4 linked regions of the Homo sapiens genome follow. The protein of the gene in region 3 interacts with the protein of the main gene of each other region in a pairwise test. Each region holds a gene or a part of one and is shown on either strand. Other genes may lie near its edges.

What was found.
Region 1: the proteins of TMEM52B (region 3) and TMEM50B interact in binary tests that used the Homo sapiens proteins (3 or more experiments, as listed by UniProt).
Region 2: the proteins of TMEM52B (region 3) and FXYD3 interact in binary tests that used the Homo sapiens proteins (3 or more experiments, as listed by UniProt).
Region 4: the proteins of TMEM52B (region 3) and MAL interact in binary tests that used the Homo sapiens proteins (3 or more experiments, as listed by UniProt).

Annotation. Positions count from the first base shown.
Region 1 is NC_000021.9:33,455,708-33,463,416, forward strand, and holds part of TMEM50B (transmembrane protein 50B), read right to left. Parts: intron 4,799-7,709; coding exon 4,706-4,798; intron 391-4,705; coding exon of another isoform or gene 308-390; exon of another isoform or gene 297-307; intron 78-296; coding exon 20-77; exon of another isoform or gene 19-19; intron 1-18.
Region 2 is NC_000019.10:35,111,729-35,119,274, reverse strand, and holds the start of FXYD3 (FXYD domain-containing ion transport regulator 3 isoform 1 precursor), read right to left. Parts: upstream 3,453-7,546; 5' UTR 3,316-3,452; exon of another isoform or gene 3,235-3,315; intron 3,012-3,234; 5' UTR 2,916-3,011; intron 2,019-2,915; exon of another isoform or gene 1,970-2,018; coding exon of another isoform or gene 1,897-1,969; intron 1,276-1,896; exon of another isoform or gene 1,151-1,275; intron 786-1,150; exon of another isoform or gene 676-785; intron 108-675; coding exon of another isoform or gene 24-107; intron 1-23. UniProt on the Homo sapiens protein: Associates with and regulates the activity of the sodium/potassium-transporting ATPase (NKA) which transports Na(+) out of the cell and K(+) into the cell.
Region 3 is NC_000012.12:10,173,764-10,182,439, reverse strand, and holds the start of TMEM52B (transmembrane protein 52B isoform 2 precursor), read right to left. Parts: upstream 3,409-8,676; 5' UTR 2,866-3,408; coding exon 2,812-2,865; intron 1-2,811.
Region 4 is NC_000002.12:95,021,595-95,029,227, forward strand, and holds the start of MAL (myelin and lymphocyte protein), read left to right. Parts: upstream 1-4,113; 5' UTR 4,114-4,198; coding exon 4,199-4,291; intron 4,292-4,745; exon of another isoform or gene 4,746-4,839; intron 4,840-4,964; exon of another isoform or gene 4,965-5,435; intron 5,436-7,633. UniProt on the Homo sapiens protein: May be involved in vesicular trafficking from the Golgi apparatus to the cell membrane. Plays a role in the maintenance of the myelin sheath, and in axon-glia and glia-glia interactions.

The sequences.
Region 1 (7,709 bases), on a different chromosome or scaffold from region 3:
AAAAAATAAGGCAACTTACCTAAAAAATATAAGTGCATTTTGAAAAAACACAGCTAGTCCCGGATAAACATCAGTATCTACATACACAAAGTAAAACAGATTAGACGGTTATATAGGCAAACGGCAGTAATAAAGTATCAGTGCCATTCATAATGATACATTTTGTATATTACAACATACTGCTATTATTCATTAACTGTAAGACATCTATAATGAAACTGAAAGAAGAAAATGCCAATTTAATTCCCCCAAAGCAAAGGACTGCTCTTACTCTGGATAAAAGTCAATGAACTTACAAAGTTTTCTTTTAGTCAAAGTAATTGCTGGTTCTAGCTACATCAAAACTGCTGAGGAAGCAGTAACTTGCTCCTTTGCCTCCTATGGCCAACACTGAAATGCAAAATCGTAAAAACATACAAAATAAATTCTTGACTTTTAAACAGTCTGTTAATTTATTTTCTTTCATGAATTCAAGAGGTTTTTTGTGTTTGTTTTTAAAGAAATGGGGCCTCACTATATTGCCCAGACTGGAGTGCAGCAGCTACTGACAGGCACAATCATAGCAAACTACAGCCCAAACTCCTGGGCTCAAGTGATCCTCCTGCCTCAGCGTCCCAAGTGGATGGGACTACAGGCACACACCACAATGCCTGGCTCTCAATCCAGGAGTTTTATCATGCAAATATGTCAGATATAAATAACACAGTTAGAATTTATCATTCTCTTTCACTGAATCTATCCTGGAGGAAATGGTTACTATCTTTATAGGAAAAGAAAAGAAACAAAATGGAAACTACTTAAATTTTTGTGGATTATTAACTTTTGTAAAACTACAAATGTTGATTTAAAAAATACTGGAGAAGATGAAGAAACTGGTTCAATTCTGAGCTCTTGATATCATAGCAAACAATACAGCAGCATGGTTAAGAGCTCCAAGTTTGAGCCAGACCCAGGTTTGAATCCTATCTATACCAATGACTAACTGTATGACCTTGGGCAAATTATTTAACCTCAGCATATCTTCATTTCCTCACCTGTAAAACGGGCATTGTAATAGCACCTACTCCAGAGTGTAAGAATTAGATGAGTGACTCTATATAGTGCTTAGAACAGTATCTAGCCTATAAAGTAATATATAAAAGTTAGCTATTACTATGAATATTAATAGTTCAAGCAAATCTGTACAGTAAAAGATTTGAAACATGGCCTAGAAATGCTCTCTGAAATAAAGTCATATTCACTTTACAAATAGAAAAGTATATTTAGGCTGGGTGTGGTGACTCACGCTTGTAATCCCAGCACTTTGGGGGGCCGAGGCGGGTAGATCACTTGAGGTCAGGAGTTTGAGACCAGCCTGGCCAACATGGGGAAACCCTGTCTCTACTAAAAATACAAAATTAGCCAAGTGTGGTGGTGGATGGCTGTAATCCCAGCTACTTGGGAGATTGAGACAGGAGAATCACTTGAACCCAGGAGGCAGAGGTTGCCGTGGGCCAAGACTATACCACTGCACTCTAGCCTGGACGACAGGGCGAAACTCCATCTTAAAAAAAAAAGAAAAGTATATTTAAATGAGTAATGCTGTTGAAATAGAAAGATGAAATTCACAATCAAGAAATTTATCAATATTTACTAGTTCTTTAAATATTAAGATACAATTGGCTGGGAGCGGTGGTTCATGCCTGTAATCCCAACACTTTGGGAGGCCAAGGTGGGTAGATCGTCTGAGATCAGGACTTCAAGACCAGCTTGGCCAACATGGTGAAACCCTGTCTCTACTAAAAATACAAAAAATTAGCTGGGAGTCGTGGCAGGCGGCTATAATCCCAGCTATTCGGGAAGCTGAGGCAGGAGAATCGCTTGAACCCGGGAGGCAGAGGTTGCAGTGAGCCGAGACTGTGCCATTGCACTCCAGCCTGGGCGACAAGAGTGAAACTCCAACTCAAAAAAAAAAAAAAAAATACACTCAACAATAGTAAAGCCTTTACAAACAATATTTCCCTACATACCTTACAGAAATGGCAATTTATCCCTATTTTCACTATAGAAACTGTAAAGCTCATGGATCACTTCAACTGCTAAAGTAAATAAGCAGGAAGCCATTAACCTGAGGCTATCTCCCTACTCTGAGTTCCTGTGTGACCCCAACCCACCCCCCGGAACCTAACTTACGTAAACGAACTGAAACCTAGGGTTATATTTTTTAATAAATAGCTGAATTTTAGTCAATCACAAACGGCTAAGCTTTAGCCAATCCCAAGCAGCCAACTGATGAGACCATGCACAAATAAGACAAACATATAGCTACAGACAATCTAAAAATTTCTTGTCTTTGCCTTGTGTTCAGCCTACAGCTGCTCATGCTGCTGGGTGAAGCTCTCCGAACCTCTTCTTGGTTTGCTCAAATTGCTAATTTATCTAAAGTTTTTCTTTAACATAACTATGGAGACCTTTTAAGAAAATCAGTGACAGCAGCCCACCCTTCTTACAGTCAGGGATAAAATGAGTTTAAAACACACTTTCCGGCTGGGCACAGTGGCTCACGCCTGTAATACCAGCACTTTGGGAGGCTGAGGTGGGTGGATCACCTGAGGTCAGGAATTCGAGACCAGCCTGACCAATATGGTGAAACCCCATCTCTACTAAAAATACAAAAATTATCTGGGCGTGGTGGCATGCACCTGCAGTCCCAGCTACTTAGGAGGCTGAGAAAGGAGAATTGCTTGAACCTGGGAGGCAGAGGTTGCAGTGAGCCGAGATCACGCCACTGCACTCCAGCCTGGGCGACAGAGCAAGGTTCTGTCTCAAAAAAACACTTTCCTATAAGATTCCATGTGTATGAAATAGATACAGACAGAAAGTACATTAGTGGCTGCCTAGGGCTAGGGGAAGGAGTAATGGGGAGTGACTGCTAATGGGTATGGCAGTGATAAAAATATTCTCAAATTGGATTGTGATGATGGTAGCATAATTCTGTGAAAATACTAAAAACACTGAACTGCATATTTTAAATGGCTGAATTATATGGTATGCAAATTATATCTCAATGAAGCTATCTTTAAAAAAGCATTTTCCTTCAGATATGCTTCATACCAGAATTATGTGCTCTAGTAGTATTTTTAATTAACTAAAAAACACATTTTAGATACAGTTGGTGACCAATGTTATTTAAGCCAACCACTGTCCTCTTGTAATCTGACTTATTTTGTATCAAGTGAAAGACAAAAGAAAAACAAAAGTATTCCAAAGATCTTATACTGATCAAACTATGAGACTTAAATGATACTATCAAAAGTATTCAAAAACCAGCTGTGAGTCAGGACAAGGAGATGTGACAGTTAAGCAAAGAAGGCTGACAAAGAGATTCCAGAGGTAGAGGAGTCAGAGGATGAATAAATTGCGTTCTCTGAAACTGACTCCTGTCTTAGGAGCAAAGGAAGAGGGCCAGTGAAACAGTCTTCCGACGCTTCCAGAGACATTTCTGAAACTGGGTTCTATTTTTCATCACTACTGTGAATGAAAAGCTATGGCACCTGGCAGAGCCACAGATTTCAGCATGGTGTAATAAGAGCTCATCCCACTCCATCAGCTGTTTCTGTATGAAGAGTATACATATGTGTTCAGTCTTGCCCTTAAAAAACTCCCCCTGTACCCATGACTTAAAAATTACAGGATTGGCTGGGCATGGTGGCTCACACCTGTAATCCCAGCACTTTGGGAGACCAAGATGGGTGGATCACTTGAGGTCAGGAGTTTGAGACCAGCCTGGCCAACATGGTGAAACCCTGTCTCTACTAAAAAAATACAAAAATTAGCTGGGTGTGGTGGCGTGCACCTGTAATCCCAGCTACTTGGGAGGCTGAGACAGGCAAATTACTTGAACCTGTGAGGCGGAGGTTGCAGTGAGCCGAGATCACACCACTGCACTCCATCCTGGGTGACAGAGTGAGACTCCGTCTCAAAAAAAAAAAAAAAAATTACAGGATTAGGTTGGAGAGAGAAGGTGTCAATGAAACGAAAGATTATCTACTGGCAATCCATAGATTATCAGATAAGGGGTCTATACCCCTTATCTGAAATCCCTGGGGCAAGATATATTTTGGGATTCAGAATTCTTCAGGTTTAAGAACAGTAAGGGAAAGCACATATACTACATAGCACCGCCAGCTGGGTATAGACAAGCACATCCTATAATCTAATATATCTATTTTCATTCCTACAATAAAACATTTGAATACTTACACTAAATGGGATAAAGAAAATAGTGAGCTCCATGTCAGTTTAGGTCAGGTTTTGCTGCCAGACTAGTTATAAATAACTTGATTTTCAGCATTTTGTGGATTTTAGAATTGTATATAAGGGAGTGTACACCTGTACTGGTTTCTCACTTTTTCTACTGCAACTCCCAGTAAATGGGCCTCTAGCATAAAATCCTGGCTGTCTAAGGTAAAGAAGGAAAGCAGAAAGTCTGGAGACAGCTGAGAGGTACCAGCTTTGTCAGTGGCTTGGATTTCCTAACCAGGGCTATCCTACTGCACTAAGTGTTCCCACTGACAAGTTTTATTAAACTCATGTATCTTCACACAGAGCAGTATCTTCAATCTAAGTGAACAATTATACTAAGTTGTACTCAAGGTAGAGTAAGCCAAATATAAAAGACATATCTGAATCTCTCCTATAAAATACAAGAAGAATATATACTTACTTTGGGTAACATATGCACCAAAAAGAATCCACATGGAAGCAATAAGTGACCCAAACATCAACATGAAACCAATGAAAAGCCAAACTCGAGCACCTGTGTAGAGAAGAGGCTTTATGATTTTGTTCATTTTTGCAGCTCTGTAACGTCTTAGGAATACATAATACTAGGAGCCCTGTTAGCCTAGTATATATTATGCATATCAAAGATAGTCATATATTTATATAAATCTGCTGTAAGTTAAATGAATGATGATTTAAAAAAAAAACACTAAAAGAAGTTAAACCATACATGGAAAAGGAAAAAAAGAAAGTTACCTTTTTACTGACTAGAGAAACGAATGCCCTAATTAAAAAATTACACTGTTGTATATATTACCAAAATAATTGCTCTATTAAAAGTAGCACATGTATTCTGGATAGCCATCACCACATAGGAATGAGAGACTTCAAATGAAGAAGGACTAATATGTCCCTTTTTAATCAATGGTAAGCTTCTATAATCACACCATTATTCAATATGGTACAAATAACGGCCATTCTTTAGGAGTATATTCAGGCTTTTTTATTGCTGAGGCAGCCAATCTGTACCACATATTCATGAAAACTTCAAGATCAGAAGTATCTCTTCAACCCTGTATTGAACAAAATTCTAGATCTCGATAATGTAAATCATCTGGACACTTGAGTAGATTCAACATATTTTTAGGAAAGCAGGTTAATACTTGCACCAGATCCTGTTCACAGGTATACTGACAGCCCCATCAACCTCTGGAAGGGGAAGAAAGCTCCACTGAAGTAAAAATAAAATCCTAGCCAATTTCCATAACAGAAAACTAAATTTGCCTCAGTTGCAAATATTTTGTTACCAGGGAAAAGATTCATTTTAGACACCAGATAAGGAAGAAGCACTGATCAAAGTTCATAATGGTTAGAACAGCTGATATCTGAGAGAAATAGGTCTCTATATTATCTAAATTTTATTACAATACTAAGCAGATCTCCAGAAATAAACAGTAATGTTTAGTTCTTTGGAGAAATACAATCTCTAAATTATATTCAATCATAGCTTTTATCTAACGTGAATAAAAGGAACTATTAAAAATCCTTAAAGGCGGGGCATGGTAGCTCACACCTGTAATCCTAGAAATTTGGGAGGCCAAGGTGGGCTAATTGCCTGAGCTCAGGAGTTCGAGACCAGCCTGGGCAACATGGTAAAACCCTATCTCTACTAAAAGAAAAAAAAATCAGTCGGGCTTGGTGGCGGGTGCCTGTAGTCCCAGCTATTCAAGAGGCTGAGGCAAGAGAATTGCTTGAACCTGAGAGGCAGAGGTTGCAGTGAGCCAAGATCATGCCACTACACTCTAGCCTGCGCAACAAAGCAAAACTGTTTCAAAAAAAAAAAAATCCTTACAATTATTTTCCATCATGTCCTTTATTTATGGCTATATACATTAAACTTTCTAATAGAATTAAACAAGAAAAAAATTTCTCTTGTAAAGTAAGTATGTCTGAGGGCATATTAACAAAAAGAGAAAAAAAAGAAAAAGAAGTATGCTTTTGTTTAGCAAAAAAATAAAACTGTAACATTTTCTCTTGTTTGCTTTGGCTACAAGGAAGCTCTGAGTTAAGGTTAATGAACAATTAAAAGCATCCATCTTGTCCCAGGTTCTAAGTACAATGATCATTTTTCTACCTAGTTCCTGTTCTTTTTTATAGTTTTATTATTTAGCTGTTTCATTTATAGTATATTTATTATTTTGATACTTTCCTATTAATTCCTCCGGGAACTAAATAGAGATAGTTTACAGATAAACCACTTAAGCAGTACAAAAGCTTAAGAGTAGCAATACCTGGGCATGACTATAAGACAGTTTGTCCTTAATTTTTGAAACACTAAACAGAAATTGCACTATATGCACAATATAAAAATATAAACTGTACTGTTAATTTTAATAGAATAGGGAATATCATAGAATAAAATATAATAATCACTTAGGGTAAAAACGACGGGCTTGGGAACCAGACAGACCAAAGACAAATACAGGTTCCACTTTTAAGCTAAAAAACTTTGGATAAGTTACAGTGAAACTTCCTATAAAAAACAGATAATAGTGGCCAGGCACAGTGGCTTACACCGGTAATCCCAGCTACTCTGGAGGCTGAGAGGGGAGGATTGCTTGAGCCCAGGAGTTCAAGGCTTTTCTGCGTCATGATCATGCCACTGCACTCTAGCCTGGGAGACAGAGCAAGACCTCGTCTCAAAAAAAGATAATAGTAACATAATTCACAGCAATGTCCGTGGAATATTCTTGAAAGAAAAATGATGGAGTACATTATTGTATGCTCTACATACAACATCTTCACTTGCTAATATATATTTTTTCTTTACCTTCCCTCATTCCTGACATTACTGCTGAGGCTGACATACAGGATATGATGAAAAGTAAGCGCGATCGCATGCGCATACACACACATATTGTGCACTTTAAACTTAGGCTCATCTGTCATTTGTCATTATACCCTCTCGCAAATTCTCCATGGATTCCAGTAGAAGTGAGGTTACAAAATCTACATCAGCATTTAAAGCATCAGGTAGAAGGCTGGGCATGGTGGTTCATGCCTGTAATCCCAGCACTTTGGGAGGCCAAGGCGGGTGCATCACCTGAGGTCAGGAGTTTGAGAACAGCCTGGCCAACATGGTGAAACCCAGTTTCTACCAAAAATACAAAAACTAGCCAGGCGTGGTGGCAGGCACCTGTAATCCCAGCTACTCAGGAGGCTGAGGCAGAAGAATTGCTTGAGCCTGGGAGGCGGAGGATGCAATGAGCTGAGATCGCACCACTGTACTCCAGTCTGGGTGACAGAGCGAGACTCCGTCTCAAACAAAATAAATACAAAATTTAAAAAATAAAACATCAAGTAGAAAAGAAAGCTAAGCTCTTCAAAGCTGCTTTATTTGGTTTAAAAGGCTATGATACTTACTATATGATCCCATTTATATGAAA
Region 2 (7,546 bases), on a different chromosome or scaffold from region 3:
CCCAGGCAGGGTGCGCAGCTCACCCGGGACAGGAAGGCTGGCATCTCGCTGGGCTGAGAGATAAGCCGCAGCTGCACCGTGGAGTGGGGACTGGGTGAAACTCGGGCCTGAGGCGGGAGGAGCCATAATAACTCACTGGACATGGACTTCAGGCTTTCTGGGAATCGCCCCGCAACCAAACAAGGGCGCCACTGCCCGCTGTTGTCCTCACTGGACAGATGGGGAGACTGAGGCTCTGAGAGGTGAAACTAGGTGCTCTAGCCAGGAAGTAGGATTTAAGCCAGGCCTGGCTCCCCAGCAGCTGCTCCTAACTAGGGACTGTCAGGGCCTTGGGGTGTTTGGGGAAGCGGGGCATTGGGAGCCAGGCGGCAGGAGGCCCGCTTCCCAGGAGTGTCTCCGTAGACCGCTCAGAGCCTGCCCGGCCCTGCCAGGACATTGCAGACTTCAGGCTGAGGACTGAGCAGGTTCTTCAAGCTGCTTGGGGGTGGGGTGGTGTGTGGAGGAATTGACGTGAGGCTGGGACTGGGGGTAGAGGGGGACTCTACCTCCTGGCTGCAGCCCTAGCTCCATCTCTGTTCCCCCGAACCTCCTGCCCCTCATCCCACACCCATGCCCTTCCCGGTCCCAGCCCTGGCTCTGCCTAGCCGGGGTCCCCAGCCCAGCCCCTGACCCTACCCTAGGCCCAGCAGAGTTCCTGGTGACAGCAAACACTTTCTCTTTCCCAGGTAGACCTGCTCAGCATAAGGAACTCGTTTCTCTCTCCTTCCTGACCTGGCATCAGTCCTGCCCTCTCACCAGCCTGCAAGGCTGCACCAAGCCCTGGCCTCCGAGCATGCCCTCCCCTGCCCTGTCCCTGCCCTGTCCCTGCCCAAATGCTGAGTGCATAGTTATCATAATTGTTTTTTTTTTTTTTTTTTTTGAGGCGGAGTTTCACTCTGTCACCCAGGCTGGAGTGCAATGGCATAATCTCAGCTCACTGCAACCTCTGCCTCCTGGGTTCAAGTGATTCTCCTGCCTCAGCCTCCTGAGTAGCTGAGACTACAGGCGTGTGCCACCAGTCTCGGCTAATTTTTGCATTTTTGGTAGAGCCAGGGTTTCACTGTGTTGGCCAGGCTGGTCTCCAACTCCTGACCTCAGGTGATCCACCCACCCCGGCCTCCCTCAGTGCTGGGATTACAGGTGTGAGCCACCACGCCTGGCCTAGTTATAATTTTGATAGCGAGAGCTGGCACTTCCTCCACCTTGCCCTGGAGTGCACACTGACCTTGCCGTGTTCTCACTCACTTAACCCCCCAGCAATCCCCGACGTCGTCCACTATGTCCTCATTTCACGAACAGCAAAAATGCTGAGAGAGGGTGGTGCCCGCAACCAACGGTGCGGGTGGTCCTTGCAGGTTGGCACAGACTCCTCCCTCTGCCTGGCACCCCAGGGCCTGGGAATCCTCTCAGCTTCCCAGTTAATTCCACATGCTGAACTCACAATTTTAGTTGGAGCATCCATTTCTTTTCCTTTTTTTGCGGGAAGAAAGCCTGAGGCTTTGGGGAGCATTACTGAGGCCCAGGAAGTGTTTAGGATCCCCAAAAGTGTTGGGGGTTGGGGGAGCTGGCGTGGGTGGGTGGGCAGGATGGCATGTTGGATAGGGGCACAGGTTGTAGGTGGACTGCCTGTGGTCTGAAGCTGTCACCCATGACCATACGAGTCCTGGTAATAACAGCAGATGCTTATTGAGTGTCTACCCCATGGGGGCATTTTCTCAGCTTCCCACTTACTCGCTCAATCTCTGCAGCTTAATGCAGGGGGCACTATTATTAGCCCACATTGCAGTTGTAATCCTGTAACCCCTGCAAATTCATCTTAAAGCCCTATGCTCTGTCGCCATGGCTGTTGAGTCTCACCTCTTAAGCCTCTTTCCAGGGGCTCCTCCAAGCCACCTCTGGCCTGCAAGGCCCCACTATACCCCCTTCCCATGATGTCATCCAGCCAAGACTGACAGATGGTATCCTCCTCGCCCCAGCCTCTGCAAAACAACGTCCAGTCCCATGCTTCCGGAGGCTGCAGGGAGCCGGGAGCTGGGTCTGCCCTCACGTTCCCCATTCAGGCTGTTGTCTGAAGAGGCTGTGGGCTGCTCCCGAACTGATGTGGTTGGTGAGCAGGTTAGAGAGGAAGGCAGCCCTGCAGCTGATGCTCTGTCTACCTGCTCTCATCCTTCCTGGCCATGAGGTCCCAAGGCCGGCCTGAGGACTGTTTCCCCCACCTGCCCTCTGCTATCCCCTCTATTCCTCCATACCATGGGAGAATGGTCTCATGTTCAGGGGTGGGTAGAAAGATCCTGCCCGCTGTGTGCTCCTGAAATCTCCCAAGCAACTCCCCATTTAAAGCTTCCCCCAGCAGCTCCATCCTTTTTTCCTGGAGGTCTCCAGAATCCAGATCCCTCAATGTCTGGACACCCCGAGTCCACCCAGCACTCCTTATCCACCCAGATCCCTCAATGTCTGGACACCCCGAGTCCACCCAGCATTCCTCATCCACCCAGATGTCCCCAGTCCATCTACGCACCCCTGGTCCACTTAGATACCCCTACCTACCCAGGCACCCCCTCTCCTCCACCCAGCTATCCCCAACCCAGATATCCCTAATCCATGCAGACACTAGTCTTTCAGACACCCCAACCACACTTATCAGTCCTGCCCTCACCTCAGCTGGTTCAACAAGTCCCTGAGAGGAGAATGGTGGGGAAAGGGACATTAGGGGAAGGGACTTCCGTTTATCTCCTGGCTCCAGAAAAGCATTTCACAAGATTTTAGGCGCTTTAACATAAAAGCTTCTATGGGGCAGGGTCAGGGGGCAGGTAGATACTTCCTAATTTAGGGGCAGAGACAAGGAGGGCTTGGAGGAAGGGGCCCCAGCTGCTCACCTGTGTGGTTCACCAGGCTGAGCAGAGGTTCCGGGAGAAATCGGGCTGCCAGGCGGAGTCCTGCGTTTATCCGAAGCTGCCACGCCCTAAGCAAACCTGGGCAGGTAGAAAACAAGTCAGATGCCCTGAGGCCCAGGGGCTCCATTCCTGCTCTTAAAGAGACAGCTTCACCCCCTCCCCAGCCATGGGCGGCAGGTTGCTCCCTGGGGTCACCAGGACCACAGCAGCCTCAGGTGAGACGGAGAATTGGATGGGCTGGAACTCGGCCCCTGGAATTAAGGGAGGAGCTTTCTCCAATCTCCTGTGCCCAGGAGAGGACCTTGAATGGGGAAGGTTCTGGGGTCTTTAAACGGCAGAGCCTCCAGGGCCATGCAGTGAGATGATGCGTTGGTGTTCCGACCTCACTTCTTTTCCTTAGATGATGTGTTTTGCCTGGTGGAAGGATTGCTGGCAGTTGTGGAGAACTTAAAGTCCCCTTCCAGGCCACATCTTGCCGCTGGTACAATTTCAGGATCAGCAGAAGATGCTAGCGTGACCAAAGTCAGGAGATGGGGCAGGGGTGGATATGAGGGAGCGGCTGGAACAGCAGGGAGGGGTCAGGGTGGGGACTCTGGGACCTTAGTCCTGGTCATAACCTGCTCCCTGCCCTGGGGAGAATGAGAACTGTCTGCCAGGCACCAGGCTGCAGTTTCCTAGCCAGGCTCTTTCCGTGGGTGCTGGGAGCCAGACGCCTGGGTCTACAGAGTGGGTGCTGGTGGGGGCGGCTGCCTCCTAGTCCACATAAGGCCCCCAGCACTGTACAAGCCTCCCTCCCCCTTTCCTCCCCTGTCTCCTGCTCCTCCTCCTCCAGGCATTCCTTCCGGATGGGGTCTGTGCAGGCTCCCCCATGGTCCCAGTTGGGGGTGCCCCCTCCCCTCAATTCCGCCTTCTTAGACAGAGGGACTTTTGTCTGGGGGCTGGATGGAGAACAAGGATCCTTTGAGCGGTTGGCGGAGGATTGGGGTCACGGGGAGGGGTAGGGCCAGGAAAGGGGTAGCTCTGCCCTGGACACCAGCTGGACTCCAGGCGACCCCAACACCACCGTGGGGGCGGGGAGGAGGGCTGCAGGGCCTGGCCAGGGAGAAGCAGCTGCTGGGAGTGTGGAGCACAGGACAGGAAAAGGGGGTTTGGGTCAAGGCTCTTCCGGAAACTGGCCTGCTGGGGGCAGAGAGAAGGACCCCCCACTTGTCATCGCTGAGGGATCGGGGAGGGCAATGTTCGCCCAGCGCTACACCCCTTCTCTATGTGGTTCCCTGGGGCAAGTTGTCAAGCCCAGGTCCTAGACAAGGGTAAGGCTCCCTCCTACCACTCTTAAGGCGGGGCCAGTTCCCATAAGGAAGCCGGGCGGGGGGACCTCGGGGTAGGGCTCTAAGCAACAGGTCCAGGAGGAGATAGAAACAGGAAGGGGAGGCCCGGAGGCCAACTCAGTATAGCTAAGGGGGGTCTTTGTGTCTGGGCGGATAGCGTCTCTTCCCTAGACCCTTGAAGCTTGTGTCTGGGACGACCCCTTGGTGGTCTTGGGAGTGGAATGGTGTCTCCCTCTGCTGGGAAGCCTGGGAACTGCAGGCATCCGAGAGCGAGTAGGGGCGTGTACAGGGTGGCTGGGAAGGGCGGGGGGTGCTCTGCCCTTCACCGGAACGGGGTGAACTGGAGAACTGTTGTCTAAAAATCTTGGAGGAACACCCCTGCCCGTGGTTAGATACAGAAGTATTTCCCAGACAGCTTGCTAAGGGGAAAAAAAACAAGGTATTGGGAAACCGTGCAGTGTGCTACCATTTGTGAGCGGTAAAATAATGCATATGTATATACTTGTAATGAATAAAATATTTTTGGAGATTGGCATCCATACCCATGGCTTCTGGAGAGGGAAACTGGGAGGCTGGAGGGTGGGGTGGAAGTGAGACTCACTCATTATCACGTGCCCTCTTATATTTTTTGAATTTTGCATCTTGAAAATGTACTACCTTAAAGGGGTTTAATTTAAAAAATTTGGTTCAGATTTAAAAAAAAATTTGCAGGTCAAAATTTCAACCTAAGGGCTGGTTTCAACCTGGGGGACCAGCAATTAGAGACTTCTGACAACCTCTGAATGTTCTGTAGTTTTAAACACCATGATCTTACATTCTGAGGTACAGACGTTTACGGTTTTTACCCAATCCAGGTCAACCATAAATTCTTCCTAGGCTGGACGTGAACATGCTGCGTCCAAGTGTGTGTTGGGCTGGCGCTGGGGCTTGGGTTTATGGTCAGAAGGACTCTGAGACCCTAGTGTGATGAGCACACTGAGTCTTAGGAAGGGCTGTGAGGAGTAGAGTTTGTGCAGTCACTTGCACCCTATTGGGGATTAGGTCTCATTTGGAGTGAGTCTTCTGGGCCAATCTGACTTCAGTTATGTTTTAAATGCATGTAGGTAATATGTTTTATTAATATATTGTATATAATATACATAATAAACATATTTGAAAAAGTTTCTCTCGTTTTGCTTTTGGAATCATTTGGGCCCAAAGAACCTGTTAAGGCTGTGAGTGGCTGTGATTTCTCCATATCCTGGGAATTCTTGCAAAATGAAAAAAACCAAACCTACAGATAGTTTCTGACATCATAAGTTTTTCAGGAACGCTGAATTAAAGCACAGAATCAAAGCCAGAGCATGTTATACCATCCCTGATTCAAACTTTTATTGATTTTGTTTCAATAATTTCGTTGCTCTTTATTCAAGGCTGGGAGCGTTTCTGCAGGCTCCTGGCCCTAGAGAGGGCAGCCTGGAGGCACCCCCAGCCATGAGAGGGGTGCTGGTTGGGTGGGGCCTTGCCTTTGCAGGTAGAGCCTGAGCGGCCAGGCTGACCGGCTGGGAGGTGTGGTCACAGCGATACGCCAAGGTCCCACTTCCTGGGCAAGATGGGGCTAGAGAGGCCGGTGGACAGGGTAATGTGGCTTCCTGGGGCTTTGTGGAACAGCGCTGTGGTCTCAGCACCTGTGGGAGAAGAGTGGGCACTGGCAGGTAACCCTGTCCCACCACCATGGGGATGGTGTGGCTGTGGACGTATCACTGTCCGCCTGGCTTCCAGGAGCCATGTGAGGTGACACAGTGGCCAAGAGTCCACAGGCTCCCTGACACCTGCCTCTGTGCTGCTCTGACGTCATCACTCACCCACAGAAGCTAGAAATGGAGATTTTTATGATGAAATCTCCTGTTTTGTTTTGTTTTTTTTTTGAGATGGAATTTTGCTCTTGTCGCCCAGGCTGAAGTGCAGTGGCACGATCTCAGCTCACTGCAACCTCTGCCTTCCAGGTTCAAGCAATTCTCGTGCCTCAGCCTCTCGAGTAGGTGGGATTACAGGTGTGTGCCACCACGCCCGGCTAATTTTTGTATATTTAGTACAGACGGGGTTTCACCGTGCTGGCCAGGCTGGTTTCCAACTCCTGACCTCAAGTGATCCGCCTGCCTCAGCCTCCCAAAATGCTGGGATTACAGGCATGAGCCACCGAGCCCGGCCTTCCGGATTTTTTTTTTTTAAGGTGAGTTCTTGCTCTGTTGCCCAAGCTGGAGTGTAGTGGTCCAATCATGGCTCACTGCAGCCTCCAACTCCTGGGCTTAAGTGATTCTCCCACCTCAGCCTCCCCTGTAGCTGGGACTACAAATGCACGTCACCACACCTGGCTAATTTTTTAATTTTTTTAGAGACGGGGGTCTCGCTATGTTGCCCAACCTGGTCTTGAACTCTGGGTCTCAAGTGATCCTCCCACCTTGGCTTCCCGAAGCGCAGGGATTATAGGTGCAAGCCACTGCACCCGGCCCTGATTTTTAAATGTTGGTAACTTCGTTTTCTTAACACTTTGTAGACAGAATGAAAAATATCCAGTGGTTGGATAAGGCCCTGGGGCCACCGGTTGGAGACCCCCATCTTACAGACTAGGGAAACTCAGGGGAGGTTCAGGGTTCCCCCTAACCCCTGTTGTCACTCACTCTGCTCCGGCCACCTGGGCCTCCTTGCCGTTCCTGGATCACTCCAGGCATGTTTCTGGCCAAGAGCCCTTGCAATGCCTATTCCCTTGCCTGGCTCTCTTTTCTCCCGCATCTGGACAGCTCAAAGCCATGAGGTTCAAGTGGCTTTCCCCGACCACCATCGCACCTACCCCCTGACCTCTCTATGACCTTTTGACTTCTGTTTGCTTTTTTTTTTTTTTTTTTGTGGTGCTATCTGCCTCCCCTGCTAGCACGTCAGCTCCTCTCAGGGATTTTCATCTGAATTATAGAACAGGGCCTGGTGCATAGTGGGTGGTCACGAAGTATCTGTTAATTACCAGGCTGGGCACCATGGCTCACGCCTGTAATCCCAGCACTCTGGGGGGCCGAGGCTGGAGGATCCTTTGAGTCCAGGAGTTCAAGACCAGCCTGGGCAATATAGAGAGATCTTGTCTCTACAAAAATAAAAATAAAAGTAGGTTTAAAACAATTATAAAAGAAAGGCTTTCTCCACCGCCACCCCCCATCCACGGAGGCCTTGCAGGAGGAGCTGAGGTGGGGGTGCTGAGGGTGGAGCTGCTGATGGGGGCAGGGGGTGTGGAGGAATGAATGTCTTGGCCAGCTT
Region 3 (8,676 bases):
TCACGGTCATAGGGGCAGTCTATTTAGGACTGCCATTTTCATCTCTCCCATACTTGCTGGCTTTTGTACTTGAGGTAAGGGAACCTTGAAGAACAAATATCTCATCTGTTGTGTTGATGGTGGGTGAGCATCACCCTTTGTGAATGAGAGGTAGCCATTTACATTAATTTGTTTGTAGTAGAAAATTCCTGATCTCTCTGTCCCTTGGGATATTGCCATTGTCCTCCTAATTCCTGCCCAGTTGAATTCTACACCACTGCTCTTTTTTTATCCTGTTAGTGTGACAATGACTATACAAAGGAAGAAGGGGAAAAGCGAGGGGGCCAGTGGGACAGAGAGTCTTATTTATCGAATAGCTACTAGATGCCACTCAGACTGCTAACAAGTTTTTTTTTTTTGTTTTTTTTTTTTTTTTTTTTGAGTCTTGCTCTGTCACCCAGGCTGGAGTGCAGTGGCGTGATCTTGGCTCACTGCAACCTCTACCTCCCGGGTTCAAGCAATTCTCCTGCCTCAGCCTCCCGAGTAGCTGGGACTACAGGCACGTGCCACCACGCCTGGTTAATTTTTGTATTTTTAGTAGACACAGGGTTTCACCATGTTGGCCAGGCTAGTCTCGAACACCTGACCTCAAGTGACCCACCCACCTCCGCCTCCCAAAGTGCTGTTGGGATTACAGGTGTGAGCCACCGCGCCCGGCCATGAACTCTTAATATTTCATAACATTTAATCACAATAACCCTCTTGGTGGGTATATTTAACCTTATCTTGAAAGGTTAAGGGACTAAGGCACAGGGTTTTAAGTAATGTGACCAGGCCAGGCGTGGTGGCTCACGCCTGTAATCCCAGCACTTTGGGAGGCCAAGGTGGGCAGATCATGAGGTCAGGAGTTCGAGACCAGCCTGGCCAACATGGTGAAATCCCGTCTCTACGAAAAATACAAAAATTAGCCCGGCGTGGTGATGTGCGCCTGTAATCCCAGCTACTCTGGAGGTTGAGGCAGGAGAATTGCTTAAACCCGGGCAGTGGAGGTTGCAGTGAGCCGAGATCATGCCACTGCACTCCAGCCTAGGCGAGCAAGACTCCATCTTGGAAAAAAAAAAAAGTGACCAAATGTACACACCTATTGATGCAGACAGAATTCAAATCAAACTCTATCATAGATATGTGTTGGATGAATTAATAGCACTGGGGACAAGTTTGCTCTAACAATTCCTTGACATTGCTATGAAGTCCCTTCTACTCCCTTTACAGAAAACAAAAAAACAAACAAAACTGTCCACTCTTTCTTCTACCTGATTTTTTAGTTGACTTCCTCTTTCAAAAACCCATTCAAGGCTGGGTGCAGTGGCTCACACCTGCAATCCCACCACTTTGGGAGGCCGAGGTGGGTGGATCACTTGAGGTCAGGAGTTCGAGATCAGCCTGACCAACATGGTGAAACCCCATCTCTACTAAAAAAATACAAAATTAGCCAGGCGTGGTGGTGCATGCCTGCAATCCCTGCTACTTGGGAGGCTGAGGCAAGAGAATCGCTTGAACCCAGGAGGCGGAGGTTGCAGTCAGCCAAGATCGTGCCACTGCACTCCAGCCTGGGTAACAAGGGCAAAACTCCGTTTAAAAACAACAACAACAACAACAACAAACCATTTAAGTAAACTCAATTCTAGAAGTTGCTTCTGTCTTCTAATAACCTGAGTGATCTGATATTTCAGGAAAGCAACCACAAAGGCCCTAGAAAAGAAACAGATTTGTAACTATTGGGAGTTTATGGCGGGTAGTGAAGGGGTAAGGAGACACACATTCTCAAGACCTATCAGTTGGAAAGGATCTGTAAAAGGATTAATGGCCAGCCTTTGCAGGTAACATTTGAGAAACCCGTGTTTGTGTTTTCATTGGAAAGAAATGGCCACTAACGATGAAAAAGCGTGTGTTTCCTCTACGCAACCATGGTACTTTCTTTCACTTTCTTCACTAAAGGTAAGAGAAGCCTAAAGTGCTCAGCAGAGAAAATGCTACTTTTCAGGCTTGTTGCAAAGAGAAAAGAAAGGAAAAATGAAGGGAAGACAAGGCAAAGGGAGTGAAGAGGAAGCAAAAAGAAAATATAAGAAAAAATGGATTTTCAGATACCACTTTAACTGTTCTATTAGCAAAAAAAAAAAAAAAACAAACCATACAGCCCACTCTGTACGGGGGCCATACGGGAATCTGAGACTATCCAGTTTTCTTCATTTGCTCTCCTTCTTGCTAGATGGCATAGCTCTATAAACTTCCCTGTGACAATTGTTTAGAATCCCTCAGTCCAGTGACCCTTTTCTCCACTAATGGATTACTCAGAGACTTCTGATTCATTGTGGGGCCCAAAATATTTTAAAAGAGCCCTGCCTCTCTTATTTCTAGACTAGAGGCACCTAAACTGCTAGAACAGGATTAGAAATTCCTGGATGGGAAATTCCGTTTAGGGGAATTACACACCTAGTTTTCATAATTTGTTTGGAATTTTGAGGGATGGGTGATAAGATGCTAAAAGAGATAAAATACTTCAGCGGCACTTCTAAAGTGCCACGGCAATCCTGCTCGTTTCCATGCTCACTCTAATTTCTGTCCCCCTTTTCATTGTCATTGCCATCAGTCACACATGCATCTATGCAATCTCGTAATACTAAGGAAACTTTGTAGTTTATTCATTTCCCTATGACCCCCTGGGTTCTGTATATGTCTCCCCACCCCGCAGTTCATTTCCTTTCAGACTCTTCTGAGAGTTGATTAATCTGGGGAAAAATACTCTTTCTGCCTTTTCACCACTGAACTCACCAGGATGAAATACAGCAGGGCTGAGGCCGCCACGACATGAACTCGGACTCCCATCGGGCTGAATTCCTGCTTCTTCAGAATCTTGCACTGGGCATCCGTTGCCTCCTTTCAATGCTCTGTGCCATATTTTACTTCTTGACCTAGAATTCTTAAGAAGAGAAACTTTTCTCAGGAATTTATCAGCTTTTCTCTCTCTCGTTCTCTCTGTCTCCTCCTACTCGCTCTGGCTGTTATTTTCTATGGCTTTTCCCTCTTCTTTCCTGTTTTTCTTCTTTATTCTTATTACTATTTCTATGGCCTCCACATTTACTTCCTTTTGCCTTCTTTCTTTCCGTTACACTATTAATTCTTTCTACATCTTGAAGTTTCTTTCTCCTACTGCTCCCAAAAAGGAGACATTCAAAGAGGACATATGTGTCCTCTGAATGAAGTATTTTTCTAGACAGCGATGAAAAACTTGGCTTTGAGGATGGTCAAAGGCAGATTGCTGGTGACCAAATATATTCCTTTCTTCATCAGAAAACTGGTAATATTCTTGATCCTTCACCAGAGTACTCCAGCGTGACTGTTGCAGGGTGAAAGTCACCCTGCTAATCTCCTTTCTTCTCTCTCCGTGTGACTAACAACCCCTTCTTGCTCTTTGAAACCCTCCCCTTCACTATGTTGATAATCAACTCTCCTGGTTCTGGGTCATTTATATCCCTAAGCATTGGGGTAAGACTGAGAGGTTGCCAAGTGAACAGGAAAGCCATCTCATCTTTGGAGAAAACAGACTTGAAGATGAGAAATCAAGTCGGAAGATTAGAATTTTCAGGTGTTATCAGTGACATCTTCCTCCTCCCTGACTTCACTTCCCATTGAAATAGATAACTGAGAAAGACATTTTTTTAAAACCAAATTTTAAAAAAGCAAATGTATAGGTTTCTTTCTTTCTTGCCTTTTCTTTGTTCCTTCTTTCTCTCTCTTTCTCTCTCTCTCTCTCTCTTTGGTTAAGGAGTGATGTGATTGAGAAATAAGTCTTGTCACTCAGGAAAATAAAACCTAAGGTTAGAGTAAAAACAAGCACACATGCAAAAGCATAGAATACTTTTTTTTTTTTTTTTTTTGAGACGGAGTCTTGCTCTGTCACCCAGGCTGGAGTGCAGTGGCGCAATCTCGGCTCACTGCAAACTCTGCCTCCTGGGTTCATGCCATTCTCCTGCCTCAGCCTCCCGAGTAGCTGGGAATACTGGCGCCCACCACCACGCCCGGCTAAGTTTTTTTGTATTTTTAGTAGAGACGAGACGGGGTTTCACCATGTTAACCAGAATGGTCTCGATCTCCTGACCTCATGATCCGCCCGACTCGGCCTCCCAAAGTGCTGGGATTACAGGCGTGAGCCACCGTGCCTGGCCTAGAATACTTACAATGAAACAAAGCTATAGACACAAATGTGGCCGGGTGCCATGGCTCATGCCTGTAATCCCAGCACTTTGGGAGGCCAAGGCGGGCTGATAACTTCGGCCAGGAGTTTGAGACCAGCCTGGAGAACATGATGAAACCCTTTCTCTACGAAACATACAAAAATTAGCTGTGTGTCATGGCAGGCACCTGTAATCCCAACTACTTGGGAGGCTGAAGCAGGAGGGCCACTTGAACCCGGAAGGCAGAAGTTGCAGTGAGCCGAGATCACACCACTGCACTCCAGCCTGGGTGATAGAGCGAGAATCTGCCTCAAAAAAGCAAAATATTAAAAGAAACAAAAGAATGCTGTATGAATGATTTATACTTAAGTAGGTGATCTTTTACTTAATACCAAATGTTTAATAAAAAAATTATTATTATTATTATTATTATTATTATTATTATTATTATTATTATTTGAGACAGAGTCTCTCTGTCACCAGGCTGGAGGGCAGTGGTGCAATCTCGGCTCACTGCAACCTCTGCCTCCTGGGTTCAAGCAATTCTCCTGCCTCAGCCTCCTGAGTAGCTGGGATTATAGACACCTGCCACGACACCCAGCTAACTTTTCTATTTTCAGTAGAGACAAGGTTTTACCATATTGGCCAGGCTGGGATAAGAAAAGTAGAAGTTAGTTTACAGTGATATATCTATCTCATAAGAATTGAATAAAACCTCCTTTCAGGACCTTTCTAGCTCAGTAAATCTAATTATGCTGAGTGATTGTGGAAGGGAGACTCTTGGGTGAGCTGATCATACTCTAAGGGTCCTCACACATAGCTTGATGATGGGATATGAGAATGCAGGATATAAACTGGTTTTGTTCTCAGCTAAGGAAAACAAATAATGAGAAAATGGCCTGGTACCATACTGGTGATTTAAAATCTGTCAGTTTCAAGACGAAATGAGCACTGACAGTCTTTTATTTTTTATTTTTTTAAATTAGGCAACTGGGGTTAGGATGAAGGGTGATTTCCAGATTTCAGTAGAAGACTTGGCAAGGTGGAAGGTATTTTATAGGACAAGGAGAGCAGGGCTTTAGGTGGCCTTCCACTAAATTATTATGTAATTCCTCCAGTCCTTAACGTTCCCATTCATACAACAGGAGCAGAATACCCACTTGACCTGCTTTAGATGTTATTTCCTAGAGAAAATAAAATAAGAGACAGGAAAGCATTTTGAATAGGATATTTCTATCATGAGTGCCCTGTACGTAGGGAACCCATCATGAAACTTTCCCTTCTCTTTTTCTTGACAGAAAGACAGTAGAGCACCAAGACCTAAAGCCTAGCCAGGATACCTGGGTTTAAATACTTGGTTTTGTCACTTATGAGCTGTGTGATCTTGGAGCAGGTTATTAGACCTCTATTGGCTCATTTTCATTTTATATAAAATGGGGGTAATAGTAGTAATATTTACTTGATAGCCTTATACAGATTAAATAAGTTAATGTGTGTAAAATGAATATAACAGTCCTGATATTTTTTGTGTTTGCTAAGATTATTTTGATTTTCACTAAAGTTTACCAGTGACCTTTACTTTCAAGATTCTGGATAATTACTGTCCTTTATGCTTCTCTTGTATATTTTTATACCATTCCCTCTCCAGACCACATTTTAGTCTCCTGATATTCTAATTCTTGAATATTTTTCCTTGCTAGCCTGGCCACCTTTTCTCCCAACCACGCCAGCCTTCACCTGCCTAAACAGGTTTGCTGGTTAACATGACTCCCCGCTCGCATTGCACTTTTCTAACACGTAATTGCCATCATCTTTTTGCCCTCCAGCTTCCAAACAGGTTTGAACAAAATAGGTTCTGTTAATGACCTCCTTGTGACTTTCCTTTCTTAGAATTATTACTACCCTTTTTTTTTTTCTCACCAGATTAGTCCCTGGAAAGATAAAAGTTTGTTTTTATCCTAATGAATGAGATTATGCCTTGGGGCAGCTTTAACTCTGAATCCTGTCCCTAACCAAGCCTCCATATAGGGAATGATGAAAGAAGAAAGATAATTCAGACAAGAAGACTGAACGAAGTACACTTTGGACAGGTACAGAAGGGCAGGTAGCTGGGATAGAGGGAAATGGTCTCATTACAATCCTATACAATCTTGTGCAGTTCCATTAAGCTTGTGAATCATTAGCTTATGTCCAGGTAGTTAAGGACTTGGAGTGGAACCAGTAGAGGGTGCATGTACATAGAGTTTTACACCTATGCTTCAGGGAATTGTTATACAACTGGTGTAACAAGTGTAGCCAAACAAATTGCTTACTTCTGGTTCCACTGATCATTCTCCTTTTGACCTTGCCTAAGTCAGGTGGCCAACTATGGATTTCTTTCCTCTCTGTGCCTCAATAAAATAGAGGCCAGGACTCTGAGGCATCAACCTCAAACTATAAGTCAGTGGGTAGGGCCACAGCCCTGATTTCAAAAATAAATAATATAGCAGAAGAAGTTTCATCTTTGCAACCCTTGGGAGATCCCTTGGGAAGTGTTTCTGTCTGATAAGCCAAGATCACAGCATAGGGATTGAGTGACAGCTTCAAAGGCACTGAAATCAGTAAAAAGATTAGAGTTAAAAAAGTTAAACAAGACAGAAGGATTCAGTTTATCATAGAATGTTTTAGGTTGATATGCTGTGTAACACATCACCACAAATTATGTGAGCAGCAAGGTAAAACAATGTACTTTTATTATTTCAAAGTATCTGTGAGTCAGAAGTGTGGGCACAACTTAGTTGGGTCCTCTGCTTGATGTCTCACAAGGCTGCAGTCAAGGTGGCTGCTGGGTTGCACTCTCATCATGCATTCTCAGGTGAGCCTGGGAAGATTCACTTGCAAGCTCCCTCAGGCAGAATTTATTTCTCTATGGCTGCAGGATCCATTTAAGCTTGCTTTTAAAAATCTAGACAGGGAGATAAAGATGGAAATAGGAGAGGGAGAGTGACTTTAGCATAATAGTCACTATACCTTACATAAGCACACGTAGATGATCACATACATTCCAGCACCTCTGCTACACTCCAAGTCATAGGTCTCACTCACACTCAAGGGGAAGGATTACACAAGATCATGAACACCAGGAGGCAGGAATAATGAGAGCCCTCTAAAATTTTTCAAATCTGTCCAGTTATCTGCCACACAAGGACTGTAGAAACTATCCCACTGATCTTTAAAAACAGGATAAACCCAAACGTCCATCAATGGATAAATAAAATGTAGAATGTGGTTTATACATACAATGGAATATTATACAGACTTTAAAAGGAACAAAATTCTGACACATGCTACCACATTGATAATTGTTGAAGACATAATGCTAAATAAAATAATTTAGATACAAAAGGACAAATATTATATGATTCCACCAGTATGAGGTGCCTAAAATAAACCAATTTATAGAAACAAAAAAATGGAACGGTGGTTTCCAAGAAAGGAGAAAGGAATTGGGATTTGTATTAGGTCTGTGCAGAGAAAGAGGATCAATACGCTGTGTACATACATAGAAATAGGTTTATTATAAGGAATTGGCTTGTATGATTATAGAGCCTGGTAATTTAAAATCTGGAGTGTGGGCTGCCAGACTCGGCCAGCGAGTGGAGAACTGGGAGAGTTGATGGCTGAGTTCCAGTCCATAGACAGCTGGGGGATTCTTTCTTATTTGGGGGAAGGTTAGAAGCTTTTTGTTCTTTAGGCCTTCAACTTTTGGATGAGGCCCACCTACATTATGCAGCGAAATCTACTTTCCTCTTCTGATTAATATGTTAATCTCATTTAAAAGCATCCTGTCTGGGAACCCCATGACCCAGTCAAGAAGACACAGAAGGCCAGCACGGTGGCTCACGCTTGTAATCCCAGCACTGTGGGAGGCTGAGGCAGGCGGATCACTTGAGGACAGGAGTTCAAGACCAGCCTGGCCAACATGGTGAAACCCTGTCTCTACTGAAAATACAAAACAATTAGCCGGGAGGGGTGGCGGGCACCTGTAATCCCAGCTACTCAGGAGGCTGAGGCAGGAGAATTGCTTGAACCCAGGAGGCGGAGGTTGCAGTGAGCCGAGATCATGCCATTGCAATCCACCCTGGGTAACAAGGGTGAAACTCCATCTCAAAAACAAACAAACAAACAAACAAACAAAACACATGAAATTCACCATCACAGGAGTTATTGCTTGGTGGGTATAGAGTTTCAGTTGGGGAAGATGAAAAGTTCTGGAGATGGATGGTGGTGATGGCTGCACAACAATGTAAATGTACTTAATGCCACTGAACAGTACACCTAAAAATGGTTGAAATGGTAAACACTTTATGTTCTATAATATTCATGGCATCCAAAATAACTGAGTCACTGTAGAAATGATAATGTGCCCTTTTCAGTGTGATATCGTTTCAGTATTTTTTAATTCTTTTTTTTTTTTTTTTTT
Region 4 (7,633 bases), on a different chromosome or scaffold from region 3:
ATCAGTGTCCTTAGAAAAGTGGCCCCAGAGAGACCCTTCACCTCCTCCACCCTGTGAAGACACAGCAAGAAGGTGCCGTCTGTGAACCAGAAAGTGGACCCTCAACAGACACGGAATCTGCAACACCTTGATCTAGGATTTCCAGCCTCCAGAACAGTGAGAAACAGGCTCCTGCTGTTGACAAGCCTCCTGGTCTACCGTAGTTTATTACAGCAGCCCGAACAGACTAAGACACCGTCTCTGAGCACTTTGCCTGCAGTCATGGACAAAGCATGCCCAGCACAGGCCCTGACCAGGTGCCTCTCAGCCTCACGTGCTGTCCCTCTTGGAAAGAGCTCTCCTAGGGAGCAGGGACTCTGTCTTTCCTACTCACACACCCTCTACCCTCCATCCCCATCCACAAGTCACCCAGACAATGCCAGCCTGTTTTGTGCTCAGAATATCATGAGGACTTTGTCGGACAGTGGCAGAGTGCCACATCTCCCTGGTTCTAGAAAACATGATCCTACAAGAGGGTGGGGAAAAGAGCACATGCGGATCATTGTCCCTGGAGGCAGTGGGCACACGGAGCCCATGGCCCATCAAAGGACAGTGCCCTGGTGAGCAGCCACCACTTCAGATTTTCCAGTTTGTGGATTTTGTGCAGTAGACACAGAGCCTGCCTGCTGGAATCAAGAGGCCTAGTCACCAGCCATGTGGCCTGCGCACATTACCTCCCATTCCTAGCCTGTATGTTGGGTGACACCCACCAGCAAGCCTCTGTGGGATTAAATGAAGCCATGCAGGCAAAGTGCCTGTGGCAGTGCTGGGACTCAGCAAGCCCTCAGTAACAGGTTCCCCTCCTGCGCTGACGCCATGGCAGCTGTGGCTGCCATTCCCCCATCCGCCAGCAGGTGCCCTCACTGCTTCATGCCTTCTATGGAACCCAGGGCTGTGGGTGACTGTGTCTGTGAGAAAAATAAAATCCCTAGGGGGAAGTGCGCGTTCAGGGTAGCTCTCTGAACTCATGTCGGCACCCGGCCTCGCCATCCATAAATGGGGATGATGACCCCCACTTCCTTGTGTTCCCAGAGGTGAAGGTCCCAAGCCCTGTCCACCAGGGCAGGTGCCTGGGGCCACACCTGAGATGACCATGAAGACTGGATTTGGGAGGCTGCCGATGTCTGCATGGAGCTGGCATTTGACTGGCAATTGCCCATCTTGAGCAGGGTTTTCATCGAGGGCTCGGAGCTTTAGAGGTGCAGCGTCACTCAGGTTCAAGGTGCTCAGCAACTCTGTGCCCTTGGGCAGCTACTTAACACTTCTGAGCCTCTGTTAGCTCATCAGTAAAATGGGAGTCATCTTACCTACCTCAAAAACCAATGCACCTACTGTTACGGATGGGCAACTCCTGCCCATTAATCTTTCCCTGAACACGTCCCTCTCCCCACAATCTCCTCCCTCCCCCTGAACACACACAAACTGGAGGTGGTAACCTCTTCCTTCCCCAGGCTGGCTCTGCAATGGCAACTTTCCAATTCCTACTTTGTGGAAACCCACCCAAGGCCACGTTATTAATATTTGACAGAAGCCCCAGACCCACCCTCTTATTCACACCCACTGGGAAGACCAAGGATACTCACTGAGTTATTATTGGCTGAAATTATTTTTTCATATCCTGCTGGAAACCAAAATATGGTCCTGGGCTTCTGATAAGTATCAACCACCTCATTCACCAGCAGGTGGCCCAGAGCACCTGCAGAAGCTGTGCTGGGGAATGAAGACAGGCCCATCTTTACTTACCAATGCCTCTCTCTTACCAATGTCTCTCTCTCTCACCAATGCCTCTGTTTTACAAATGCCTCCTCTCACCAACGCCTCTCTCTCTCTCTCTCACACACCAGTGCCTCTCTCTCACCAGTGCCTCTCTCTGTCTCACCAACGCCTCTCTCTCACCAATGCCTCTCTATTTACCAATGTCTCTCTATTACCAGTGCCTCACTCCTCACCAGTGCTTCTTACATCCAAACAGGGCACTTCCATGTCCTCCTCTGGTGGTCAAGCACAGACAAAGCTGGAGTCATCCACCATTGGCTAAGGTTTAATGAGCACTCACCAGAGGCTGGGCTCTGCTTGGGTGCTGAGCATATGCTAGGGTGGGGAAGGAGAGGGGCAGATGGGGGTGGCTGGAGGATGCCCTGCCGAGGGTAGAGTCTGGTCAGGAAGATGAACGTCGAGCGGAGAACTCCAGGTGGGAGGAGGGGGTCACAGAGATAGGGACAAACCCCCTTGACCCTGGCCGGGCTGCCTTCCTCATCCTCTGAAGCCTCTTTCAGAGATTGCTGCCCCTCTGCCTTATCAAAGGAGGGCTGGGACTGCTGAGCTCCACTGAGTTGCCCCTGGGAGCGAGCTTTCCCCAAAGGCTCAGGCCCAAGTAGGAATGAGTTAGCAACAAAGGCTTGAAATAAGTAGGAAATCACCAAACCAAACCACAAACAAAAGCCCTCCAGGCCAGGTAAGGACATTATTAGGAGTTGATAGGATCTTCTTGTTCTTAATTAGTATGTGCTGATAGGAAATCTCCAAGCAGCTTTCGCTGGACTGCCTGAGGGTCATCTCACCTCTCTTCAGGCTGCGGCTTCCTGTGGCCACCTTGCTTTAAGGCTTGTTCCCAGGACGGTCTCCTGGGGAGGAAGAAGATGTCCTCTCAGAGGCCAGCAGGTCCAACTAACGAGCTATGAGATGCCCAAGGTGGATGAGGACCTGGGCTCCTAAAGTCCCACAGCCCATTGTGTCCAGAGAGATGCTGCCCTGGGGACCCGACACAATGGCACCTTGGTTGCAGCCGTCCGGGCTGGCAGCTCACAGAGGCACAGTGGGGTTTTCTCATTTCAAATGCCTGGCCCCTTTCCAGAGGCACTTAGAATGGCCAGCTGATGGGCGTGCTACTTTTGCTTTGGAAAATGCGTCCACGAATATACTTCTCTCCCTAGGGACTGGGAAGGAGGAAGAATTGTGCAGCAGGGAGAGGTGAAGGCCCCACTGGAGAGAAGGGGAGCCCCTTGTCCTGCCTGCAGCAGCTGCCAATGGAAAGAAAGAAGAGTTGGGAGTCTAAGCTGGAGGTTGCGGGGCCAATTCCCTTTTGGCAGGCGAGAATCCGGACTCGGGCGGATTTCAGGCTTCAGTGTTTGTAGGAGGAAACACAGCAATCACACTATTAATAGTAAATTAAAATAAATGGGCAACTGCTGCATGGTAATACTTTTTTTTTTAAGGCAAAAAATAAAAAATAGTGAAACAGAGAAACAAAACATGAAACACCGGCAGTCAACAGGCAGGCAAAGAACCTGGGGGTGGGGGTAGCAGCGGTCCCACCCTCAAAAGGCCCGGGCTGCCCAGACCAAGAGAAAGCGATGAATCTCTTCTGGTAACGTCCCTTCCTGTCGCATGGATTCAAGGCCGACCTGCCCCAGCACCACCACCAGCAGCCTTCTGCTGGGGCCGGCACAGCTGGGAGCAACCTCCTACTCTCAGGCAGACGCGCAGCACCAAGCAGAGAGGCCCGGTGCAGGATCCCAGCGCCGAACCAGCGCCGGCTCAGTGGACGCGGAAGGGGCCGGCGGCCGCGGCCGGTCCCATCCCCCACTGCAGACCCCCAGCCTGTGGCGGTGGTCCAGTTCCGCCAGGAAACCGCCGCCTGGAGCTGTGGGTCGCGCACATTAACGCATCCAGCGGAAAAATGAAGGAGACCCAAATTCAAAGTTAAAGTAATGGTGACCCGAGAGGTGCCTTGATGAGAAGGTTTGGGGTCCCGGTTACTGATGGTTATCATTCTTACGAGATGCTGGTCACCTACGAAGGGAGAAAGGCACGAGGAGCGCCTGACCAAAGTGGTTTTGCCCTGCTTCCCGCAAGAGGTGGCACCCACGGCTGGAACGCAGGAGTCAGACCCACAGTCCCCAGCTCTGGACGCCCGCAGCGGGGCCTCGAAGAGGTTCAGGGCGGTGCCCGCGGCGCTCGGGCCGGGTCTCCCGGGGCGTGGGGCGGGGGGCGGGGTTGGGCGGCGGCCGGGGCTCCTCCCTCTTCTGCCCCGGGCTCCCCTGCTCTTAACCCGCGCGCGGGGGCGCCCAGGCCACTGGGCTCCGCGGAGCCAGCGAGAGGTCTGCGCGGAGTCTGAGCGGCGCTCGTCCCGTCCCAAGGCCGACGCCAGCACGCCGTCATGGCCCCCGCAGCGGCGACGGGGGGCAGCACCCTGCCCAGTGGCTTCTCGGTCTTCACCACCTTGCCCGACTTGCTCTTCATCTTTGAGTTTGTGAGTGGCTCCTGGCCGGGGAAGGGACGGGGTGGGCTGAGCCGTGCGCTCTCTCGGGCGCCCAGCACAGCTGTCGGACGGGATCCGCTAGCTGCGCAGGTTCTGGGAGCATCGGGGCAGCAGGCGCAGGGCGGGGACTAAGCCAGGGAAGTCCCCTCCCACCTCCGGTCCTTTGTGCCCTTCTAGACCAACAGAATGAGGGGAACAGTCTACAGGACTATGGAGGAAAAACTGGGTTCCCAACTGGGGTCAGATGTAGGCAGCGGGGCAGGGGGGGACGGCTCTTGGTTCGCTGGTCCCAAAGCTGCGCGCGGGGCCCACTTGACGCGCGCAGCGCCACCGAAGCTCCCGCCGCGCTTTGCGCGGTTGGGTAGAAGTGCGCAGCTTTTACAAGGGAGAAGGTTTCGTTAAAAAAGAAAAAAAAATCAGCAAGAGAAACATTAGTATTACCAACCGAGATTTGGAGATGAGAGGGAGCTGAATCCGGTTTATTTTCTTCTGGCCTTTTAAAGTTTCTGGCGAGGGAACGTATTTGCGACCAATTCGATCTGGAAATGAGGCCATCGTTTGCTTGGCCGCAGTCCTTCTGCCCCGTGTGCGGGGTGGGGGTGGAGGAGATGGGGGGTGGGGGGTGGGGGGTGGCGGCGAGAGCGATCCGCGCGCCTCGACTGACCTTGGGCAGGCCCGGGGCCTCTGCACCTGCGGTCGGTCCCGCCTTGCACGCACGGTCTCTGCCTGAGGCTGCAGGAAAGCGCTTCCTACTGAGAACTCCTGATAAGCGCTCACGGTGTCGCGAAGCCGAAGTGACCTCCCTCAGCCTCAACTCCCCGGGGGCCGCTGGCCTTCACCTGGGAGGGGTGTGCCCTGTATGTCCTGTGGGTGCGGTCCGTCACCGCCTGAGGGACACCTTTTCCGGCACCCCACCCTCAGAAGTGTCAGCGTGGAGAGTTGGGCGGGAAAGAAAATGTCGGAGCCTGGCTGTTTAAAAATTGGACCCCAGGTTGTTATTGCCTGATTGGAGGGGGAGGGTGTGAATACCAAAGGGAGCAGGTCAGTTCATCCAAAGAGGGCTTGCGGGCAGAGGCTAAGAGGGCTGCGGCGGCCTGGGAGCAGGGCTACCATTGAACTTAGGGTGAAAGTCCAGTCGAACCCAAACCTGGGTGGAACCGGTGACTTGAAATCCTAGGGATAGGCGGAATCAAAGCAGTTACATTTAGAAGAAACCCTGGACGCCAATGAACGCAGCCCCACCGTTTACAGAGAGCCAGCCCCCCGCTGGCCTCCTTTTAGAAGTTCAGCATACAAGAAGGAGTGCCCCTGAGAGTAGGAACAGTCCAGTTAGACGGGGCGATCTGATCTGCGGGAAAGGTGACCGGAGACTCCCACCCAACCCGCCAATGCTGCAGAAATTACAGGGGCGTGGGAAACCTTGGAACCATCTACTACTGGCAGCTTGCTCTTCCAGCGTGGCTTTGTGGCCTGCCGGTAGCGGGGCTTCCAGAAGAAACAACTCCCCCTCGCCCAGAACGCTTCTCTCAGCTGACTTAGAAAGTCACTTCTCCACCTCACCCCTGTTCCCCACCTCCCTTCCTCACTTCCCAGGAGACCCGCAATGCATAGTCATCTCCAGGCATCTTCCACATGCTCTAGATTAGGGGTGGGCTCGCAGGTGCCTGGGAGAGAAGAGGAGAAAGCTGACCCCAAGCCTCTCAGTTCTCCTCTGCATGGACTGTAAATACGAAGCTGTATATATTTGATGTGTGGAAGGAGTGGAGAATTAAAGGGCCTGAGAAGGCGCTGGCCACCCCGGGAGAGTTTTTGTTTTTGTTTTTGTTTTTGCTTTTGAGACGGAGTCTCGCTCTGTCGCCCAGGCTGGAGTGCAGTGGCGCGATCTTGGCTCACTGCAGGCTCCGCCTCCCGGGTTCACGCCATTCTCCTGCCTCAGCCTCCCAGCTACTCGAGAGGTTTTTTTAATTATGGAATATTACAACTCGACAACAAAAAGACAACCCAATTAGAAAATGGACAATGGACTTGAACAGAGGTTTCTACAAAGAAGATACACAAATGGCCAATATGCACATAAAAAGATGCTTAACATCATCAGGCATTAGGAAAACTAAATTGAAACCACAATGAGGCCAGTTGCGGTGACTCACGCCTGTAATCCCAGCACTTTGGGAGGCTGAGGTGGGTGGATCACCTGAGGTCAGGAGTTCGAGACCAGACTGACCAACATGGTGAAACCCCATCTCTACTAAAAATACAAAAAAAAAAAAAAAAAAAAAAAACCCGGCTTGGGTGGCTCATGCCTGTAGTCCCAGCTACTCAGCAGGCTAAGGCATGAGCATCGCTTGAACCTGGGAGGCAGAGGTTGCAGTAAGCCGAGATCATGCCGCTGCACTCCAGCCTGGGCAACAGAGTGAGACTCGGTCTCAAAAAAATAAATTAATAAGTAAATAAATTAAATAAATAGAAAGAAAGAAATCACAATGAGATACCACTTCACACCCATTAGGATGGCTACTATCCAAAAAACGGAAAACATCAAGTATTGGATGTGGAGAAATTGGAACCCTTGGTATGCCACTGGCGGGAATGTGAAATGGTTCAGCCACTGTGGAAAACAGTTTGGTGTTCCCTCAAAAAATTACCCTCTGACCCAGCAATTCCACTCCTGGGTATATAACCAAAGGATTCCAAGCAGGGACTTTAGTATTGGCACATGCATGTTCATAGCAGCAGTCTTCACAATAACACACAGCCCAGTGGCCATCAGCAATGAACTGAATAACAAAGTGCGACATATCCAAACAATGGATACTACCTGACCATAGAAAGGAATGAAGTACTGATACGTGCTACAAAGTTGATAAACCTTGAAAACTCTATGCTAAGCAAAAGACACAAGGCACAAAATGTCATATAGTGTATGATTCCGTTTATATAAAATACTGGAATAGATAAATCCATAGAGACAGAACACAAACCCTGGTGGTTTGCCAGGGACCAAGGGGAGCAATTGTTTAATCGCTATGTGGTTTCTTTTTGGGGGTAATGAAAATGCTTTGGAATTAGATTGAGTTGGTGGGTGCACAACACCATGAATGTACTAAATGCCACTGAACTGTCAACTTAAAATGATTGGTTTGATGATATGTGAATTTCACCTCAAGTTTAAAAAACAAAAAATAGAAATATTTCAAATGCCACAGAAGAACATATACAATACTTTAACAGACACCTACATAATTATTGCCCAACTTTGTCAAATCTTAATATTTTGCCTTGTTTGCTGTTATGTATTAAGGAAATGAAGCTTTCAGATGGCATCTAAGCCTC